Linked DNA regions of Homo sapiens: all the other regions are reported to be linked to region 3. The links are microRNA targets in miRTarBase. Many come from high-throughput screens and were not tested one by one. Region 3 holds a microRNA gene; each other region holds the end of a gene's coding sequence.

Evidence for each region. Region 3 holds the annotated microRNA hsa-miR-1304-5p (UUUGAGGCUACAGUGAGAUGUG, at 3,224-3,245, shown strand). A microRNA usually pairs through its seed, bases 2 to 8, with sites in the 3' UTR of a target mRNA and lowers its output. Matches are read on the target gene's strand: a 7mer-m8 pairs with bases 2 to 8, a 7mer-A1 pairs with bases 2 to 7 and ends in A, and an 8mer does both.
Region 1: the mRNA of FBXW8 is a reported target of hsa-miR-1304-5p. Seed matches in the 3' UTR shown: 7mer-A1 at 2,427-2,433.
Region 2: miRTarBase lists SLC45A4 as a target of hsa-miR-1304-5p. Seed matches in the 3' UTR shown: 7mer-m8 at 1,439-1,445 and 7mer-m8 at 2,797-2,803.

The regions. Positions count from the first base shown.
Region 1 is chr12:117,027,416-117,034,533 of GRCh38, forward strand. FBXW8 (F-box and WD repeat domain containing 8) reads left to right here. Exons shown (of 11, transcript NM_153348.3): 10 at 1-89; 11 at 613-3,733. The coding sequence ends at 757. Among named protein-coding and RNA genes, the nearest start is that of TESC, 68 kb to the right of the region's middle.
Region 2 is chr8:141,205,079-141,212,196 of GRCh38, reverse strand. It overlaps SLC45A4 (solute carrier family 45 member 4), which reads left to right. Exons shown (of 9, transcript NM_001286646.2): 9 at 500-5,023. The coding sequence ends at 625. Among named protein-coding and RNA genes, the nearest start is that of SLC45A4-AS1, 46 kb to the left of the region's middle. RefSeq lists enhancers at 2,866-3,373, 3,374-3,881 and a silencer at 5,957-6,366.
Region 3 is chr11:93,729,851-93,736,968 of GRCh38, reverse strand. It overlaps MIR1304 (microRNA 1304), which reads left to right and starts at 3,205; the gene lies at 3,205-3,295. CEP295 (centrosomal protein 295) reads right to left here. Exons shown (of 30, transcript NM_033395.2): 28 at 7,000-7,099; 29 at 6,821-6,920; 30 at 6,611-6,738. The coding sequence ends at 6,700. It overlaps TAF1D (TATA-box binding protein associated factor, RNA polymerase I subunit D), which reads left to right. Exons shown (of 6, transcript NM_024116.4): 5 at 218-275; 6 at 665-1,402. The coding sequence ends at 808. It overlaps SNORA25 (small nucleolar RNA, H/ACA box 25), which reads left to right and starts at 6,323; the gene lies at 6,323-6,456. It also overlaps SNORA32, SNORD6, SNORA1, SNORA8, SNORD5 and SNORA18, and 1 more gene.

The DNA.
Region 1 (7,118 bases), not on the chromosome of region 3:
TTCAGCAGCCACAGCCTCATCACGGCCAACGTGCCTTACCAGACGGTAATGCGAAACGCCGACCTGGACAGCTTCACTACTCACAGGAGGTTAGTGGTGGGGCCGGGCGAGTAAGAGACCATCTTAGTTTGACTGATGTATAGAACCCCACCCCCCCCGCCGTGACACATTGCACCCTATGGGCTATACCCTCAGGCAGGGCCCTGCCTTTCTGCGAATTGGAAACATAAACGTGGATGCTGACCTGTACTGAGCACCCAGCATCTGATGCAGGACAGCCCCGTGGGGCGAGTCCACGCTGTCGGCTGTACAGAGAGGGAGGGCAAGCCGTATGCTGAGGGGCCTGCTGTGGTTAGAATCCTGTCAGGGGCAAGGCCCGCCCTCTTGAGTCCTTGCCCTGTGACACTCACTGCGCCCATCGGACTTGTGCACCCCCACGTTGACCGCTAAGCCGGGGACTGTGAGTATCTGACGCTGTGTGCCCAGAGAACGCGTTTGTGAAGCTGAACCTCTATCTGGTCTCAGGCGAACGCCTCCTGCACAGACAGAAGCGGCTGGGGTGAGGGCCAGCGAGGCAGCCCTGACCTGTCACCATCTTTGTGCTCTTTCTAGACACCGGGGGCTGATCCGCGCCTATGAGTTTGCGGTGGACCAGCTGGCCTTCCAGAGCCCTCTCCCTGTCTGCCGTTCATCCTGTGACGCCATGGCCACTCACTACTACGACCTCGCACTGGCCTTTCCCTATAACCATGTTTAGGGATGTGCCTCAGTTGGGAGCAAGGAGAAAAATGGGAAGAACCAGTTTTATCCATCTTAAAACGCCAGGCACCTCTTCACAGGTGGTAAACATTTAGGGGAAGAAAGCAGCCCAGGGTGCCATGCCTGACAGCACGCATCTCCCTGACCCCTGCACTTCCCCCAGCGCCTGGGGCAAGCTGGCGTGTGCCAGGGCTCGAGTCCCACGTGCTGCCAACTCAAACATAGCCTCCTTCCCCACCCAGCTGGCCACCCTGGCCTCAGCTCCCTCAGGACGCCTCAGGGATCTCGCTGCGCGGTCCTATACGGTCCCTGCTTAGCCAGCTTCTGTGTGTCCGCCCTCCCAGCTCCAGCCCTGCAGGCCGTCTTTTCCGTCTCCAGCCCCTTACCTCTTTTCCTCCGAGGGCCTTTGGATGTGCTTGTTCCTGGCCTCCAAGGCAATAACCTCCATGTCCTTTTCCCTGTATTTACTTGGGGTGCTCTTCTGTGACACTTGCCACCACCACCTTCCAGTAGCAAGCTGGTAGAGCTGTACTTTTTCTTCACAGCTTTTACCATGGTTTATAATTATATACTTATACAGTTTAGTCATCAATGACTATTTTGCTTACTATTGTGTCTATGATATGTGATACAAAGCAAATATTTTCTAAATATTCATTGACTAAACAGCCATCAAGATGAAACAGGACAGGAGAGAACTGTTCAGTGTGATACAGAGCTGCCATTTCCAAAGTATTCTGGAAGCAAGCCATTGCCTTACTCTTGATTTTCAACAGTTCTAAACAGCAACAGCATCCACCTAATATACCTTCAGAATATCAAAGCGAAAACTGATAGAACTACAAAGAGAAATAAAATCCATTCTCACGGCAGGCAAATCAGTGAGAAAAATGTAAAGATCTGGAGGATTTACTTAGTATCGCTAACAAGCTGGATCCAGTAGATGCGTATGGAATTTCAAATACACATAGACGATGCACAAAAAACCACCCTGTACGAAGGCCACAAAGAACAGCTCAGATGCACAAAGATTCACACCATACAGGCCAAATTATAGAATCCCCCAACCCCAAGACACTGCACCCTATGGGCTATACCCTCAGGCAGGGCCCTGCTTTTCTAGGAATTGACTCCAATGCAGAATAGTGAGAAATCAACAAAAAGCAAAATAAGACAATTCCAGACACTCCTGAATTTACTTGGATTTAAAGAGGTTAATAAAAACAAACTATAAACTCTCTAGACTGGGCTGACAGTAAAAGCACAGAATACAAAACCCAGGGGATGGGGCTGGGAGGGGCTGTGAGGGGCTGGCACCTCAGCTCAGAAAAGGTAGCAGCAATCCCAAAGCAGCAGAAGGCAGGGGTTAAATCAGGATAAAAACAGACATCAGTGGAATCGAAAACCAATAGTTAGTTAATATAAAGCCAGAAGGTTTTGTTTTTTTTCAGGTGGGGTCTCGCTCTGTCACCTAGACTAGACTGGAGTGCAATGGCCTGATCTCGGCTCACTGCAACCTCTGCCTCCCGAGTTCAAGCAATTCTCCTGCCTCAGCCTCCTGAGTAGCTGGGATTACAGGCGTCCGCTACCACAACTGGCTAATTTTTACATTTTTAGTAGAGACGGGGGATATTGCTATGTTGGCCAGGCTGGTCTCAAACTTCTGACCTCAAATGATTGCCTGCCTCAGCCTCCCAAAGTGCTGGGATTACAGGTGTAAGTCACTGTACCCAGCCCAAAAGCAGTTTAAAAAAAAAAAAGACAAAATATACAACTCTTGATAAAACATAAAGGTACAGTGGTCTATGAGGAAGAGAAAAGGTACCTGAGGATGCAGAAGTACCTACCACATGGGAACCGTTTGTCCACACTCATTCCAGAGAAAACCGAGTCCTCTCAGTTGCACACGTGTACGTATCAGTGGGAAGTGCTTGCCATTACTCCAAAGCCTAGAACCTTCACGTCATGAAGGTTCTGGAAGGTTTTTCAGATTGCTTAAGATACGCAGCCATTCCATATTCATCTCCAACTACACAGGGGAACGGAGCAGATAGAGCTGCGACTGGGAAGCGTCACCTTCCCGTCCAGAGCGCTTTCTTTCAGACCCTGCCTACCTGCAGGCAGATGGACCGGAGGGTTTTCTGCTTCCTTTCAACCAGATAACTTCCTAAGTGGAGATGGCCTGTAGGTAGCAAATGCAGGATTTTGTTTACTTTCATCATGTCATGTGGTGGTCAGACTGCTCGCTGGTGGCCTCGCTTTAGAAGGTTTTCATCAAGCCCCGCCCTTTCTCTCTCATAGTCTTAATGCGTCTGGACCACTGGGGAAAATATTTTTCTTTTCAAAAAGCAGCCCCTTCAGTCTGCGTTCCCAGTTCATTTTGCAGGCGCATTCGCCCTTCCTAGTTTGCAGCAATTAAAGATAACGGAGTGTAAAGTCATTAGACCCAGAATTAGAGCAGCCAGCAGCTGGCCCAGTGTAAAAATGTCCCAAGTGTAGCCCCTCCCACCGCAGAGCCTGTTTCTAACGTACCTGCCATTCGTGGAAGTCGCCTGGGTTTTGTAAAGGAGAATTTTTTGGACTCAAGCTGTCATCTTCAAGCACGCCAACTTCAGGCAGTGTTTTCTACTGCAAACCTCCACATCCTGGAATCAATCACACTGACAGGGAAAGGATAAATGCTCCTTTATAAGCCAACATGTATCCAAATTAAGCCCCCTTACCTTTATCCAGACCCTTTCACAAACAAGTTCTGAGTTTTTAGCCAATTGATCCTCTACTTTCCTTCTTTAGTCCCTCTCAGGGACGCCTCCATCCCCGGCTCCCCTAAAGGTAGAAGATACTCGAGCATGCTGCCAGGGGAGCTGGATGGTGAAACACCTGAAGATCTCATATCGCCTCTCAAAACACTGTCGGACTTGCTTTCTGCTTTATGATGTCCGTAGTTGTTCTAATATTAAATGCTTTGAATTTCTTTATTGGTCAAGTTATTTTAACTTGGGCAAGGCATACAGTGATAATCCCCTGGCATGCCACGATTCCAGCTCTTCCCACCCCCTTGAAATCTTACCTCCCACCGTGGTGGTTTTGTAAACCCACAGTCAATTGGATTTGCCCAGAACCTCCCCTACAGGCGCTCCCAGCCCAGGATCCAGGAGACCCGCAACATGGTACAGTAACTCTTCACCAACCGTCATCAATAGGTTTTCTTAGAAACTACAACTTTAAGCAAAATGAGGTATAATGAAACTAATTTTGGCTGGGCAAGGTGGCTCAGGCCTGTAATCCCTGCACTTTGGGAGACCGAGGCAGGCGTATCACCTGAGGTCAGGAGCTCAAGACCAGCCTGGCCAACATGGCAAAACCCCATCTCTACTAAAAATACAAAAATTAGCCAGGCCTGGTGGCGTGTGCCTGTAATCACAACTACTCGGGAGGCTGAGGCAGGAGAATCGCTTGCAGCCAAGAGGCAGAGGTTGCAGTGAGCTGAGATCGCACCACTGCACTCCAGCCTGGGCGACAGAGCGAGACTTCGTCTCAAAAAAAGAAATGGCAACTTTAAGCAAAATGATATATAATGAAACTAATTTTACTATAGGCTAATGGATGTAAACAAGAGTTAAGTTCCCACGGCATATTGCTGGCCATAAAAACTTCACCAAACTTTAGAACTTTAAACCAAACACTTCTAATATTAAACATTAAATAGACATGAGTTAGTTATACATACATTTAAGAAAAATTACTAAAAACAAGATAATTACCCAATTTTTGGTGACTCTGAGTGCTGGCAGTTGCAGCGATGGTGAGTTATATCACAGAATAAATGTTTGCAAAGCAAAAATTGTCAGGAGCGCCTCCTTCCACCACGCAGGTCAAACACCAGAATGAACGGGCTCACTGGGCACTTCCGTACAGCGTCATTTACTATTGTGCATTTGTATGGTTATGGGAGGCAATTTTTATTTTACAATAATTTTTTATTCATTCCTTCTTTCATTTTCCAACTCAGTTATTCCAGTTTAAGGTGGTGGGCGACCAGAGCCTATCCCAACAGCTCAGTGTGCAAGGCAGGGACCACCCTGGACAGGATGCCCTCCCATCACAGGGCACACTCACCCCCCACACACACTCAGACTGCGACCAGACACCAACAAACCTCACCTGCACATCTTTGGGGCGTGGGAGGAAACCAGAGTGCCCAGAAAGCTCTCCGACCGGGAGGACGTCTAGACGGTGCACAGACAGTGGCCCCAGCCGGGAATCAATTTTTTTCTCAATGTTATAACAAAATGACATTGAATAAAACGATGCTATTCAAGGACCCACTGTGTGTGAAATGGTGCATGAGGGCATTTTCTGGGAAAAAGCGTGGTTACCTCGCATCAGATTCTCCAAGGGACTACAGCCCCCCTGAGAATTTCATCTCTGCCACTAGAGTGTGTTTTGTAACCCAAGCCATGTGCCACCCTGGTGCTGCTGTTGCCCAGGCAATAATTTATGTTTCAGAGATACTCCAGGGACGGCATCACCTTCTCCTACCAAGCACAACTCCCTGCGCCGGCTGAACGCTAGGGTTTCAGCTGATCGGAGGGAAACTGAATTTCCCCAAGAGAGGGCTTGGTCCTTTCTGAAAGGAAAGGCTGACACCCCCAAGATGAAGTCCTTCACCCCCAACCCCCTCTTGAGAGCTAGAGGCCCCACGTTTCAGGGGCTAGCGCTTCCCACCACACGTGTTAGATGGCAGACACTGGCCGCCGCAAACCCACTTTGTTTACAGTTGCTGAGAAACGGCTTCCCCTGGTGAGGGTCCAGCCTTCTCGTAACAACTGTCCCGCGGCTATTCCAGGCGGGCCACCACAGGGGCTCCAACAGGGCCGTCTCCCACTGCCTGACGGAGCCTTCGCTCTGAGCAGCAGCTGCAGCAGCAGTGAGCTCACGGCGCTGGCCGGCCGGGCCGAGGTGCTGTGAGCCACACAGGCCGGCCCACGTCACCCGTGCAGCCGGGCCAGATGGTTACCTGGCTACCGCTGCAGGGGCCTGTGGCGACTTGGACAAGGGCTGCCTCTAATGTGCGATGGCAGATTCCCTCTTGCTGGGCTCTGGCGGGTGCCATGTTGTCCCCAGCCCACTTTCGGCCTCTGATGCCCAGCGTGGGCTTCCAGAAGCAGCCATTTGACTGCTCTGCACTGGGGGCCGTGTCTTTTCCTAGGAAGGGAAGGGGAAGCCCCCCCAGGCTGAGCTGTCAAGCCGTGTCTTTTCTTCCCTCGCCCAATGTTAGGACAAACGCTGCCTTTTCGTTTCTCTAAGATAGACGTGGCAGCTACCTCCTCAGCGGGCCCCTTGACCACTGCCACCCCATCAGAGCCACTCTTGGGGCACCGGCCCTTCCTCTGGGAGACTAGAACCCAGTCCCTTGCTGACTTGGTCAACAAGCAGATTAGAGGGCTGAGCAGCCACCACGTCCTCCTCAGAGTCGTGAGTCCTCCTAGGACCAGGCTGGTCCACCACCAAGCCCCTGCTGATTGCCACATGTGCAAATTCTGCAAGAGGACAGAGACGCCGCCAGTGCCCCGGGAAGTGCGGTGCTCCCCCTACTCAGCTCTTCCTGGCTTTCCCAAGGTCGCTGTGTGGGAGGACAGCCTGCAAGGCAGGTGTTTGCAAAAGCCTTGCCAAGGCAACTTGTATTTTTAACTCTCCATCAGCCTACTTAAGTCACACGGCGCCGTTTCCAGCACAGCAGAGTTCAGCCGCAGCCTCGTTAACTGCAGGCAGGTGGGGACAGGTTCAACTGCTCCATGACAAGGATCAGATCCACAGATGACCTGTCTCCCATTAGCAAAGCTTAAAAAGAACTTTCCAGTCCCTTGGCTCAGAAAACAACAGCATTGTTTTGTTAAAGTCTAGCAATAATTCGTTCCCTATGCGGGTATTTGGCCAGAGCTGGAAGCTGCTGTCATCTTACTCCGTTCCCTTATCCATAATTCATGCTTAACGTGGCTGCAGTGTGTCCCCTGAGCTCCTCATATTCCATTTCCATCACACGGCCCTTTTGTAAACCAACCAAATTAGAGTGTTTGTGTCAAATTGCCATATTCTTTCAACATCCAAAAGCCAACCTTTCCCCTTGGTAATACGGCGATATTAGGAGTTCAGCCCGCTTTCGACTCTATTCCTGGCAGATGGCTGAAGAGTATGGACAGAGGTGACCTCCCCTGGCGTCCAGCAGGCTGAGGATGCCGCCCCTGCTCAGTCTTCTCCACCCACGGCCTGTGGCCCTCAAAGGACGAACTTATCAGCTTCCTTCAAATATTTGACTTAGTGTTGATTTCTGCCTAGTTCCTTTTAGTCACTGGTGT
Region 2 (7,118 bases), not on the chromosome of region 3:
GTCTGAGCCGCACTCCCGTTTACACACATTCCAGTGGGCGGGTGGGCGGGCGGGCGGGCGGCGGGGCCAGGCCATGGGCGGGAGCAGAGACACCGCGGAACCCTGCAGATGCTGTGGCCGACCCGGCAGTGCGGGCCAGAGCCCCTCCGCCCCCATAGCCACAATTCAGTAGTCGTAGGGTAGGTTTGAGCTACTAAGCAAATACCACACTAACCACTTTTTCGATAATTAAAAGAATCATTTGAAATATTTTTTTTAATTGAAAAAGATATTTTAATTTCAGCTCTTTTATTCTGCAGGTGTATTATTCTGCATGTTTTTAAATGATATAAAACATTTATATAGACAATAAGCAACTTAGAAAAAATAAGATTTTGCATTTCTAAAATTATAATTGAAAACAAAATCTGACATTCTCTGCTAAGTCTTATCTGAATGCTTCAGATAATGGTAGTGTAGTCAGTGACTAAAATATTTTTATCAAATTTCCTCTCTGTAGACGCCTGCAGGTATTGACGTCTGTCAGATCTCGTCACATTGGCTGGTGCCGCAGCTGTTGGAGAGTATTTTTCTTTATGATTATTTTAGAAAAAAAATTTTCTTTTCCACAATGTGGTTCTCTTAGAAGAATGACGTATCTTCTTTTCCTCAGCGAGTTGGACACATTGTGCCCAGGGCAGCCCTGTCCTTGGGCAGCGACCGCACACCAAAGCTGGGAGGAGGCTGGTCCGGGGGGCCTGGGCAGAAGACAGTGATTTGCAGGGGTGGCTCCCAGACACCCTGCCCAGGGATGGGCTGGGCACCACCTGGGGGCGGAGCGTGAGCTCCAGACGAGCTCCTGCGTGCGCGTGTGAGTGTGTCTGCGCCCAGCCATGTGACCCCGCTCGTCCCGTCTGAAGGACTCTCCTAGGAGGCCAGGTTGCCCCTCCAGACCGCTCCCAACGTCAGGGGGAAGGAAACGTTGACTTTCACTGCACTTTGATTCGTCTCTAAACCATTTGCTGGGGATTCCTGAGAGCAGAGCTCCCAGCGGGCCCTGCCTCCCAAGTCCCGCCGCAAGGCTACCTCGGGTGTGTGGATGTGCGAGGGCCTCCCCCGCTTGCGAAGGGGACATGCGTGCTGGAACCTGTCGGAACTCCATGCCTTCCTCGCCTGCTCACCTGCTCGACGCTGGAATCGGGACAGGTGCAAAGGGACGCAGACGTCTGGGACAGCTAAGGCCCGTGTCACCGGAGGGCTCCGCACAGTCGTTCTGGTTTCAACGAATAAGCAAAACTCGGGCAAGTACTGCAGCTATTTGGAAATGTTTTCCAAACCACAGTCTCTTTAGAACTAAGCCTATTTGAAACGGTCGGTGTAGGCTTACTGAGATCAGGAGACAGGGAGGCCCCGCACATCACACAGATAAAGTCAGACAATTGTAATTAATACTTTTGCTGCCTCAAGTTGTTTTTTAAATAAAGTACTTTGAAATGCATGAGAATCATGCTGCAATATGATCATTCTAGAGCAAATATATATATACACGTATATATATTTCAAGATGAAACTAAAGCAGTTTTTAAATAAATTACTTGAATTTTCTGTGTATTTAAAGGAACGACTGTTTAATGTACTTGATGGGCCTCTGGTCTTGCCGTGTCTCCTGCCGCTGGTGGCACTTTGTAGATTGTGTGTTTGTGTCCGGGTGGCAGTTGGGTACCTGCTCACGCACGGTGTGTCTGCCAGGCCACGGTGTCCCAGGATCGCAGAGGGCTGACTTTCAAGACTTCAAGAACATTTTCTGGATGTGTGGAAACTTGAGAATGGCCTTGTGAATCTCGTGCTTGGACAGGGCAAGTCCGACTACTGAAAGTGCTGCCAGCTTTGCTGCGAGCCCTCCGGCCAGCGGGAGCCCCGTGGGCTGGGCACTGTGGCCCTTCTTCTCTGGGGGACGGCACCCCTGGCTTCCTCACCTCGGCCGGGCGTCCGTGGCAGCTCACTCTATGCAACTTGATCCTCTAGCGGCTTTAAGACTGTAGATCCCCTCTCTGAGACCTGGCTGTACTTGTCAGGATCTCGAGGCGCAGCTCCCGTCTTAGCTGGTTTCTCCGGCTTCTCGTCCTGACGACTATAAAACAGTTGGAGGCAAGAAAGCAGCGGATGTGGGGTGGCAGTGGCCTGACCCGAATCAAGATCCGACCCAAACCACACCAAATGTGGGTTCATCTGGGGGCCACCCCTTGCCTGAGGCTTCCCACCCTCATCTGAAGGCCCAGGGGCCGGATCCAGGGCTCACCAAAGCCGATTCCTCGCCAGCTGGGAGTGCAGAAGTCTCAGGGCCTGGCTGCGACTTGATTTTTAGGAGGAAGAGGGGCTTCGCAACCCCCCTCTGAATAGTGTGTTAACCCTTGAGATCCCAGCCTCGACTAATCTGAAGTAAGGACAACAAAGGCCATTCAGTGCCCTCCACATGGCCTTGCCACAGTCACTGTCAGGGTATGAACGTGCCGGAAGCCAGTGCCAGCCAGGGACAGGCGTGACTGTTGTGTGCTCCTCGGTGACAGGAGTCGGTGGCTGCACACTTTGTAGACTCGTCAAGCTGTCAGCACTTCAGGTGTTTGCAAGCAAAGCCCTTCTTAGTGTGCAGGTCAGTGTGCAGAGCCCAAATGAGGGGACCGCAGGGGCTGGGGTCCAGGGTCAGTAGAGTCGGTTTCTGGAGCTGCCTTCCTGGGAGGCAGGTGTGGGTGACCGGGGCTCTGGCGGTGCGTGTGGGCCCGGCCTGGCCACAGCGGGGACCAGGTCACGACATCTTTGGCCTCAACCCCTCCCCTGCACTGAGATTATTTCCAGATTGCACTCACTTGAAACCGTCCGTGTCGTCACCTTGTGTCTTAAGGGAAGCCGAGAAGAAGGGCAGACGGGCAGGCTGTCTTGTCTGCAAAGCGCCATTGCGCCCGCAGCTTGTGTGGGTCAGGCTGCAGCTCGGGTGTCTGTGGCTTCTAACCTTGTACCTCAGACGGATGCAGTAACAAGGCGGGGCTGGGGACGCCGGTCAGTGTCAAAGGGGAGGTGCTCTGGCTGATAGCCTTGCCCGAGAGGGACGAGGAGGCCGTGCGGGTGCCCCCTGGGGAAGCTGGCCAGCCATCCAGTGCTGAGGACGCAGCTGGAGTTGGGCTCGTGGCACCCTTGGGGTGTGGGCTGTGCAGGCTGGTGGCCTGGGTGCCTCTGCACACTGAGTGGAGTGTCAGGCAGGGTGTGTCGGTTGGTCGAGTCTTGTGTAATGTGCGCAGACCAGTTACCAAACTAGGATAATGTTGGTCTCATTTGTGGTGGTTTTGTTCCCTATACAAGTCAGCTAAGTAAAGACTCTTTTAACGAGCTTCCCCTTAACACATGGCAGAAGTTTCCAGGTGCAGGAATGCGAGCTGGCGGGAAGGGGCAGAGGCCGTGAGCTCTCAGCTGGGCCGGCCTGCCTGTGTCCCCTTTCCTGGGTCTGTCGGCAGACTGGCATCATGACGTTCCCTGGTGGCTGAAGAGCTAGCTTTGGAGTGTTGTTTTTCTCACTCTCAGGCAGGGGCCTTAGCTGGAATCCTCCAACCTGCCACTGAACACGTCAGTGCTGTGTGCTGCCTCTTGGACACCTGCCCTTGAAAGCCTCAGGCCCCTGGGAGAAGCACTCTGTCCAGTCCTGTCCCCGGGGGGGAGGCAGGGCCACTGAGCCCTCCTCAGATGGTTAGTGGCTTCCAACAGCCATCAGGAGTGTTTCTTGAATGCCCCAGGTGTGGAGGACTTGGTCTGTGACCACCTAGAACCCCAGAGCTGAACAGGAAGCCGTCCCTGCAGCAACAAGAGGGCTGGAAGGGGGAGCTGCAGGCCACCCTCGGCTCTCCCACTGCTGGGGCGGTGATGTTCGGGTGACATGTTTGAAAAATACTCTTAAAGATACCAACTGTTCCCTTATATGGCTAATGGTTTGTGCAGCCACCAGCGATGGCGGCCCCTATTAGAGACCAGGTTTGTTAAAACACCAAATATTGCTGTCCACACTAGACATTAACCGGCTTCAGAAAAGATGGACACCTTTTCCCACGCTGTTTCGCTTCTTAACTTTGGTCCAGCTTTAGCCACCACACAGCGTGTGAGGGACTGCTGCTGCGGAGTCAGCCTCGTTTGTCCCTCCGCCTCCCACCAGCACGCGCCGCTTCTGAGAGACACCAGCTCCCTGCCTCCAAGCCTGGTGCCACAGGCCTGTCGTGAGGGACCCCTGCTTCCGAGAGCTCCTGGGGGGGTTCTGCCCTTCACCACCTGGGAGAGGTGTCAGTTCAGTTCCGAGTTGAACAAGGCCCGTGCACACAGCATGTTGGGGGCCCAGCCCAAAGTTCTTGTCACCTCCTCATGCAAAGCCAGCCATCACCCTCCGGCCAGAGCTCAAGGTGGCCCCTTGGCCAGCCCCTCCTTGGGTCCTCCAGGAGGACTGAGCACCCCTCCTAGCGGCATCCCTTGCCCTCCACAGTGCTGCCAGGGGCACGTCGCTCTGTGCCGTGGACTGAGACCATCCCCTGGTGACAGAATGACCCGTTTGTTGGAAATGCCTCGTTGCCAGAGAAACTCCCCAGGCATCTCGGAACGAAACTATTTAGTTCCATTGTGAACTGGCCACGGGACAGCTTTTTATCAACTTATTAAGTTGGAGCACTGTAATCGCGCTTGCTGAGTTAGCAGTGGTGGTAAGCGTGTGTTAAACACATAATGTTACGTTTTAGGAGAGAGAGGTCGTAAGGAAGTGTCGTGTCGCTCATGACTCTCTTCTATTAGTTGGGTAACAGTGGCCTCATGTTTGTGTCTGTGTGTACACAGAGCCCTTAGGTTCTGCTCTGTTTCTTTGCCAGGTGAATGTTTGTGGCATGCGCTGCTGTCCGCGCCCCTCTGTCCTGCGCAGGGTTCAGCTGTGCGGCGCCCTGATTTCCTCCATGCACACAGAACCTCCTTGTGTCTGTTTCTCTGTTCCTCTGTGGCTGACTCAATAAACTTTTCCCTCTGACATGATGATGTGGGTGTGTCTGTCACTTCCCTGTGGCCTCCTGCCCTCTGCCTTCCTGGAGCCTGGTGGGTCTAGTGGGCTGTCTGAGGCCTGCGGAGGGGAGCTGGGCCCAAGTACCAGAGCATTTGCTTCCCAGAGGGCCGCCAGCTGGCAAATCCGGGGCCTGTCCCTGGAACCCACACACAGGCCCACTCAGGTGGGGTTGAGGCCTGGGCCTTCTGCAGGCCTGTTCTGGTGGAGCCGGGGTGGGGCCCGCGGTCTACCTCTGCTGAAGGGTCCCTGACTGTCCCTGGAGCCAGTGTCTTAAGGAGGCAGCCTGCTTGCTGTTGCTGCCAGCAGGAGGGGCCACGCTGGGCTGAGGACGGGGTGGCCCGGTGTGTGCACCTGGCTTTGGCGCCCCAGGGGACATATGGGGTCCTGGGGCGGCTGGAAGAGCGCTCCATTGACCTTCCTACAGGCAGAGTGAGTCATCTCTGTCCTCTGGCACCCCACTGAGGGCTGTGACTGGCAGTTGGCAGTGGAGGAAATGAAAGGGAGGGGACTTGCCCCGGGTTACCCAGCTGCTGGGGTTTGAATCCGGAAGCAAGTTTTCTTCAGTGGCTCTTCTGATTTGTGGGGCGTGGAAGGGGTCCCAGCAGGGCCGGGGTGTGGAGTAGAAGGGATCTGCTCAGACGAGGGAGAAAGGGACGAGGGACTTTGATAGTTGGGGGGTGTCACCACGGGGCTCCTGGATGGGACCTGCGCAGTTGGGGGCCCACGGAAGCCAGGAACCTCCGGACCTGGGGACAAGTCCCAGCTGGGCCACTCTGGCGCTGTTACCTGGGCGCCCTGCTGCAAAACGCAGGCTGATGGCCCTGTGGTGGGGACTAAAGGGATGGTCGCTGTCCTTCGGCCAGACGGGAGTGGGGCGGTGAGCCAGGGCCGCCCAGACTCTGCACCCAAGACCCCATTTGCCATCTGGGACCCTGCCTGGCGCCCTGGCTGACGCGAGCCCGCGGCATCCCCTGTCGTCCACCCGGTGCGTGCGGCCCCGCCATGTCCCGCCCCGCCGTCCCTGGCAGGGAGGGGCTGTGGAAGCCTCCGCCCACCACGGCACGCCCGGCACCCCCAGACTCGTGGCTGGGCTTTGGGAACACAGGTGGAGGCCCAGGGCGCGGAGGGCGGCGGGACCCAAAATCCAGGCGCTTCCCTCCCAGGTGGGGGAGGCAGCGAGCGAGAACAGCTTCCTGCAGGGGACGCCCGGCCACCGCGCCGCAATCCCGCCGCGGCCACAGAGACGCTCCCCGCCCCTGGACAGGCCTGAAGCAGTGGGAGCCCGAGACGCTGGGAGCCCCGCACCCCGGTGGCCGCCCGGGGCCCAGTGCCTGTGGGCGGGGAGGCGGAATCGACACCCCACCAGGACCCCCGCCCTCGGGTGGTGGGCGGCCGTGACGGCGGCGCAGGGGCCAGGGGCGTGTGTTCCCCCGCCCGCCTCACCTGGCGCGCGGGTGCCTGGCCCACCTGAGCGAGCACCAGACCTGCACCCCGCCAACCAACGCTCCCCCCGAGCGACCAGGCTAGGAGGGAACACCCGGTGCTGCGCCCCTTTCCTGGCCTTTCCCCAGGATGCTCACCAAGGATGAGCCCTGCGTGCCCAGCGGCCATCACGGGGCAAGAAGAAGTCGCCAAGACAGAGAATCAGTGACCCAGGCCTCCCAACCCGGTCTTTGTTCGTTTTTGAGACGGAGTCTCACTTTGTCACCCAGGCTGGAGTGCAATGGTGCGACCTCAGCTCACCGCAACCTCTGCCTTCCAGGTTCAAGCGATTCTCCCACCTCAGCCTCCCGAGTAGCTGGGATAATTGACGCCCGCACCCGGCTAATTTTTGTACTTTTAGTAGAGGTGGGGGGGTCTCACCATGTTGGCCAGGCTGGTCTCGAACTCCTGACTCAAGTGATCTGCCCGCCTCGGTCTCCCAAAGTGCTGGGATTACAAGCGTGAGCCACCGCGCCCGGCCCGTCTTCACATCTTTGTCTCCACACTACTAATGTTAATTTTTTTTAAACGAAATTTGAACCACTATGCAGAGTTTTGCAACCTACATTTTTTGTTGTTG
Region 3 (7,118 bases):
AATAATGAACAAAGATACAGAGTATGACAATTGGGATTATTACAGTTGAGCCAAGCTTGGCACACCGTTCATCTAGAATTCTCCAGAACACAAAATTCTCAAATTTTGTGTTTCCTTTGACTAGTATTGCAGTTTCAGTTATATTTCAGAGTGGAATATACAACTAATTAGGTCATCGAAGATTCTGTCATCTCGATGATAAATTTTAATATTACAGAGCAGAGGATGAGGATGCAACACATCTTGAAGATAACGAATGTGATATCAAATTGGCAGTAAGTGACTTATTTTTTTCCTATTCCATTTTGGGAAGGCAGGAGTTGGTTGATACAGAAGGAATTATATTTAGTTTTTCTCTTACACTTCATTTAACTTTTGAAAAGCTCTATAAGTTTACTGCAGGAAATGCAAGAAGGAAAATAATTTTTTAGAGACTTGATAAAGAACATGGGGTTTTCAGTACTATTTTTAATAAGTAGCATTCTGATACATATTATTGCTAGTTAGGATGTCAAATGAAAAAATAAGCAATGTTAATTTGGATTTTTAACATCTACATGTAGTCTCTAGGTTATCTGAAGTAATCCAGGGCATTCAGCTATATGTAATTACTAAACTATTTGAGTTATTGCTTAATCCATGATTTTTTGTTTGTTTTATGCAGGGGGATAGTTTCATAGTAAGTTCTGAATTCCCTGTAAGACTGAGTGTATACTTAGAAGAAGAGGATATTACTGAAGAAGCTGCTTTGTCTAAAAAGAGAGCTACAAAAGCCAAAAATACTGGACAGAGAGGCCTGAAAATGTGACAGGATCATGAATGTCAAAGGTGAAGCATATAGAAAAAACGACTTCATAGAAATGAATAAAGATAAATGTGGATATATGTACCAGTCTGGTGGTGAAGAAATTCTGAAACCCAGAACTTTATAACAAGAAAAAAAATTTTTAACCCTGTGAAGAAGTTTGTGAAAGAAACTTGTGAAGTAGTAATAATTAGAAAAAAAACCATTAAAACACCAGAGAAAATACATAGAAAAATTTGAGAAATTGTCATTTGATTTCTGAATAAGAGCTTACAGGTGTCCTGTGAGTATTGAAACAATGAAATGTAGTGATTTTAATTTTGAAAAGAAAATCTTAAAGTAACTTGACACCCAACCATCTTGAAGAGGGGATTTGAAATGCTGTAATTTTATCCCAGCTTTGTTCAGCCATGACAAGTGACCTGTCAGATGCTTAGTATTGTAATAACCTCATTTCCCTTTCCAAATTTAGAGTATCTTTAATACTATTTTTTTTAGACAGAGTCTCGATCTGTCACCCAGGCTGTAGTGCAATGGCCGCAGTCTTGGCTTACTGCAACCTCCATCTCCCGGGTTCAAGCGATTCTGCCTCAGCCTCCTTAGTAGCTGGGATTACAGGCGTTAGCCAGCACACCCAGCTAGTTTTTGTTTTTTTAGTAGAGACAGGCTTTCACCATGGTCTCGAACTCCTGACCTCAGGCGATCCGCCTGCCTTGGCCTCCCAAAATGCTGGGATTATAGGTGTGAGCCATGGCACCTGGCCTAATACTACTTTTAACTACCATTTTCACTTTTTATTAGTTCAAGAAAAGGCATACACATTTATTCAACATGTATACCTGGGGAGAACCAGTCATTACCCCGATGTTCATTATTTTGATCACCACGATAGAGCTGACTACTCTGCTATGTAGTGCATTTTGGGACTGCACTTATGTATGTTTTTGTTTAACGTGGACAAAGACTTACAGATAGGTGCAAAAAATAAATCCTCTTTTGCAACCCAGAACTCATTGTTCAGTATGAGTTTTGATACATATAAGAAGGGATATTATGATACCTGAGACAGTTGATTGATGGGAGTATTGATAGCCATAAAGGTTGGTTCCAGGCCAGGTGCAATGGGTCAAGCCTGCAATCCCCACACCAAGGTGGGAGTATTGCTTGAAACCAGGAGTTCAAGACCAGCCTAGGCAAGAAAGTAAGAAACACATCTCCACAAAAATTTAAAAATTAGCTGGGTACTGGGGCATGTGCCTGTAGTTGGAGTTACTCAGAAAGGGGGGAGGCTGAGGCAGAGTTGGAGGCTGCACTGAGCTTTGATGGCACCACTGTACTCCAGCCTGAGTAACAAAGACAGACCCTGTCTCTTAAGAAAAAAAGGTTGATTCCAGGCCTGTAGAATAGATAAACAGCATGGGATATGAGGGAAATCCTCAGCAGTATTAATTTTGCATTCCAATTTCATGTTGATGATATACACAATGGCTTTTTGTTTTAAAGGCTTTTATCTTGAGAACATGGTGTCTGGAGTTAAAGGTATGTCTCAATTTGAGTTTTCACATCATATTTGTTTATGTGTAGGAAACAGTATGTTGTCAGAGCAAGTTTCATTTTATTCAGGGACATTTCTACCATGCTTTTAATTCCCATTTATACTGATTTCTGAAAAGAAGAATCCTAGATTCACACATTTTATAGTGATGTGTCAGATTCATTTTAGTTGCAAGCATTAGAGGGTCCTGAATTTGTTAGTTTGTAGCAATAATCAGAACTTTGGATTTCCTACTTGAAGCCTACAGCATTATTTTGAATTAATGCACAATCTAAAATGAGGCAGAGGATTTTATGGTTTAATGCAAAATATAGTATAATAAAAGATGATTACACAGGTCATAAGAATTCATAAATTTGAATGATGTAGAGTTTGATTAAAAGTTATATAATGCCAAAGTCGTAACTTACAGGCACATTATATTCCTGTATTTTATAATGGATGACAATTAATTTTGAGCCAAGAATTAAAATTTGCTGAAATCTTCGAATTGGGAAAACAACATCCTCTGTTGCAATACTGAAGTTCATAACAACAGTTAGACTTTAAACTTAAATCTTAAGTTTAAATCTTTTTCCTTTGGTTCATGTAAAGGAGCTACTTGATGTTACTTTTTATTTATCATTCCTCTGGCTCCTAAGCACAACGTGATTGTGAAATTATTGTTTTTGTGATTAACGTAGTAGGAAGTTTCTGCAGTTGGCAATATTGTAAGAGCATATTGCAGTTTCTGCTCATAATTTCTTTCCTATGGAGTGTTAGACTTTGTTATTTATGTGTATAAATACTAGCTGGACACAGTGGTGCCTGTGGTCCCCAGCTACTCTGGAGGCTAAGGCAGGAGAAACACTTGAGCCCAGCGGTTTGAGGCTACAGTGAGATGTGATCCTGCCACATCTCACTGTAGCCTCGAACCCCTGGGCTCAAGTGATTCAGCAAGAATCACACGATTTTTAAAAGACATGGCAGATCCTGTGTCTTTAAAAAAAAATCAAAACCTTGTAAATAGTGGTTGAGGTCTATCCCGATGGGGCTTTTCCTGTAGCCTGCACATCGTTGGAAACGCCTCATAGAGTAACTCTGTGGTTTTACTTTACTCACAGGACTATTGTTAGATCTGTGGGAAGGAATTACAAGACAGTTGCTAAAAGTTTGAAAAAGACGGTTGCTAAACGTTATGAAAAACCAGATAATCTACTTTTTTACCTTAGGTATTGGCATACTCCACACATCTGTACCATTCTTGAGTGATCGCTTAGGTAAGTTTTAATTGGTGACAGTATAATCTTTTGGGAAATAATGATTACAGTTCAGATGATGAATTTAACTGTTCAACTGCTGAATGATAACGGGCATGAACTAAAACTTAATTCTGACAGAGCTGGATATGGCTGTATAATAAACTGGATCTTAAATTTATACTTGGGTTTTAGTTTTAATAACTGGAAATGTATCCTTTCTAAATCTTTAATTGGTACTTTCTATAGGAATGAATGTGATTTGAACTCATTCATGTTGAGAGGTAAGTAAAATATTTAACTTATAATAATCAAGGACTCAAAAGATGAAAAATAGAAATTACACCATCCCAGTATTTCAGGTATAACACAGAATTAGTAAGATACTGGCAAAAATATTACAATGTATATATTTGTATAGAGAAGGAAAATGAAGAGACTGCATGTCTATACCTACCAAACGAAACTACCTGTGTTCTTTGCATCATTATTCAACTGGCAGTTACACATATTTCATCCTAAAGTCACGTAAACCTGTGTGGATATGTTGAATCAATAGGGATATGAATTACATAAAAAGAATTTTGTGTAACTGGCAGTTTGAGCAACAATGAGCTTGACGTTTGTTGTCTGATCTGTTAAGTTACATGTATATATTCCATCTTTAAGTTTTATAGAGAGACTGGGCAAAGATTAGGCAAAGACTAGAGTTGTAGCTTAAAATGTAGTTAATGTAGCTTCCTTATTACAGTGACAATTAGGAAAAAAGCTCAAATTATTGTACTTGTTAAAGGAATTTGAGAGGTTTGTGAAAGCATTTCTCAGCAATATTGCAAATTTGGGAATACGAGTTGTACAGTTCAGTCATAATTGCACTGCATGGTATCTGCACTCAGCAGTTTACACCTGCTAGGGTGTTCAAAGGTCAGTGCTATAGAAATTCAGTATCTGGCATCGTTGGTTTTCTTGGCTTTGTGCTTGTTAAACCTGGTATTTCTACTGATACAGTATTTGTGTAGGTTTCTCAGAGTGTTCAGTTTGATATACTCTAAAATAGTAAGCAATGCTTTTTTTTCCAGGGTGTCAAATTGAGAACCAGGTAGATCCCCACCACCTACAGTAAAAAGGTAAGATTCTCTGTTTCTATTGATTCTGCTTGTTTCCCTCTATCAGTAGCACTGCCAGCATAACAAGAACTTCGTACAAATACACTACTAAGCTTTAAAGACTTTTACAATGCCTCATTCTAGAGAATGGGCACTGTTGATCATGGTGTCCAAAAATAGTTAATGTGGCTAAATTGAGACAGGTTATGCTTCCATCACAGTATGCATATTGCAGTGGTGACAATGAGACCTGTAACATTTTGCTATGTTTATGAGTAAAAATGTAGGAGAAAAATGTTGACTTTTCAATATTAGAAATAACATTTAATAAGGAATTTTCAGCTCTTATAGGACCACTTTTTTTATGTGCTGTATATTGACTGAAACATTGTAATGTGGTATACATTACTGTGTCTTGGATCAGGTGTCAAAATGTAACTGTACTTTGTACAATTCAACTTCTAGGACCCTAAAGTAAATTGGTTGAAGAAATTAGATCCCAAAGATTCTTGGTAAGTTAATTCATTACTTAAAAGGCCATGCAGGTTATTTTGTTGAATACTAGCTTTTCTCCAAATGTTATTTTAGGTTATTTATTTATCTAGCAATGCTATTGCAACATCTATCACCACTTAGGAGTAAAAAAAAGGACTAGGCTTACGTTATTATGTGTTTAAACTTCATTATTAACGATGTTATGATGATGGGCGAAATGTTCAACTGCTCTGAAGGGGCTGAATGAAAATGGCCTTTCTGAACATCCATTTACATTAAATATTGCATTGTATTTCAGAAGATTATAAAAGCTCAAAGGTAAAAGTTACCAGAAACATGATCATAGAGCAAATTCGGATATGAATGGGCATGGGATCATTGATTTTTAAAAATACCTATTAGTTTAAATAGCTATTTTAAGCATAGAATTTTCAATACCTTACTTGGGGTGCCGGGTTTCAGGATACTTTGGAACCTAAGCAACCTCATTCTTGAAAGATAGATTTATGTACTTAATAGTAAATATAAATTTGAAATACACATTTTTCCACAGGTGAATTTTGAAGTCTTCATCAGTATATCCATATTAAAACGAGATGACAGAAGCCAAAGTAATTATGGCAAGTAATGGTTTTTATCTTAACTATAAGTTATTTGCTCAAGGGTGTAATGGTCATTACCAAGGCTTTTAGAATGCAGTTTCTCATTTGCTGTGGACATGACCATAAAAAAATTTCCCAGTAGGTTTTCTATCTGCTACTTTGCTAGCAATCAGCTTATTGGGAACAGTTGATTAACTGTAATAGAAATGCAATACAAATAAAATGTGAACCACATGTGATTTTTCTTTAAAATCAGTGAGATTTGAAAATTCTCCTAGATCTCTTGAATCATGCAAATTTGCTTTGCCTTTATATTGTAACCCTTGTGGGTTGCTAATAACCAAGCAGTTTGTAGTAGAGTTAACTCAGGCTCGTTCTAGGGACTCATTCATGTTCACTCACTGTACACTCATCTCTGGAAATGTAAAATTTACTTTTATACTATTGTTATGTAGGGCTGACAGGACAACTGGATCAGTTTCATTAAAAAGGTATGTATGCATTAGAAAAGACATTTGTATGGGTCATTTCAAAGAGGGCTTATGAGGCTGTGAAACCCAGAGCTCTTAACGCTGTGACCAAAGATGGAAGTTCTCTATAGGAAGCCATAGCACTCCTAATGTTTGGTGCTATGTTTTCCTGAGGAGATATAAAACGTAATAATCCAGGATTGTTGCCATGTGAGAGTTTTAAAGGTTAATCAAAATTTCTCTTCTTCAGGGCAAACTTGAAGATAAATCTTTTGACTCCAGCTCTTTAGAGGATCTAAAGTGACCTTGATGGACAGTGGAAGAAATCACAACATGGAATTCCTCGAATAACAATTTATTGACTTTAAATAATTTTGTCTAATGCTACATATACACAATTAAAAAACCTTTACACTATTTCTAGAAAGTCAGCATGTATTTTTGGCTCGAAGTTTCTCTAGTGTTTTCTGTGGAAGGAATAAAAATTTGAGTTTCAGTTGTGTACTTCATGCTTGAAAAATTAAGTCCTTCTCCCTCAGTTATACTCACCTTATGGAATTCTTTTGCCCTTGCTCTGTTTTGGGCATAAGCTTCTTGTTTTGTTTTTTCTTCCTTTTGTTGTTTCACTTCAGCTAGTTGATTGTATAACCTGTAAAGAATTTATATAGAATTAGAGACAAACACTGCAAAAAGTGAATCACTAAAAAAAAAAAAAAAATTAACCCTACCTTAGACCCCTTTGGTGCCTTAGAGCCTGTGTAGTCTTTCTGTCTTCAGGAAAAGATGCTCTGACTTTATTCACGCCCTTTAGACGACTCACAGATGAACCTGAGGAAAGAAAAGTGAA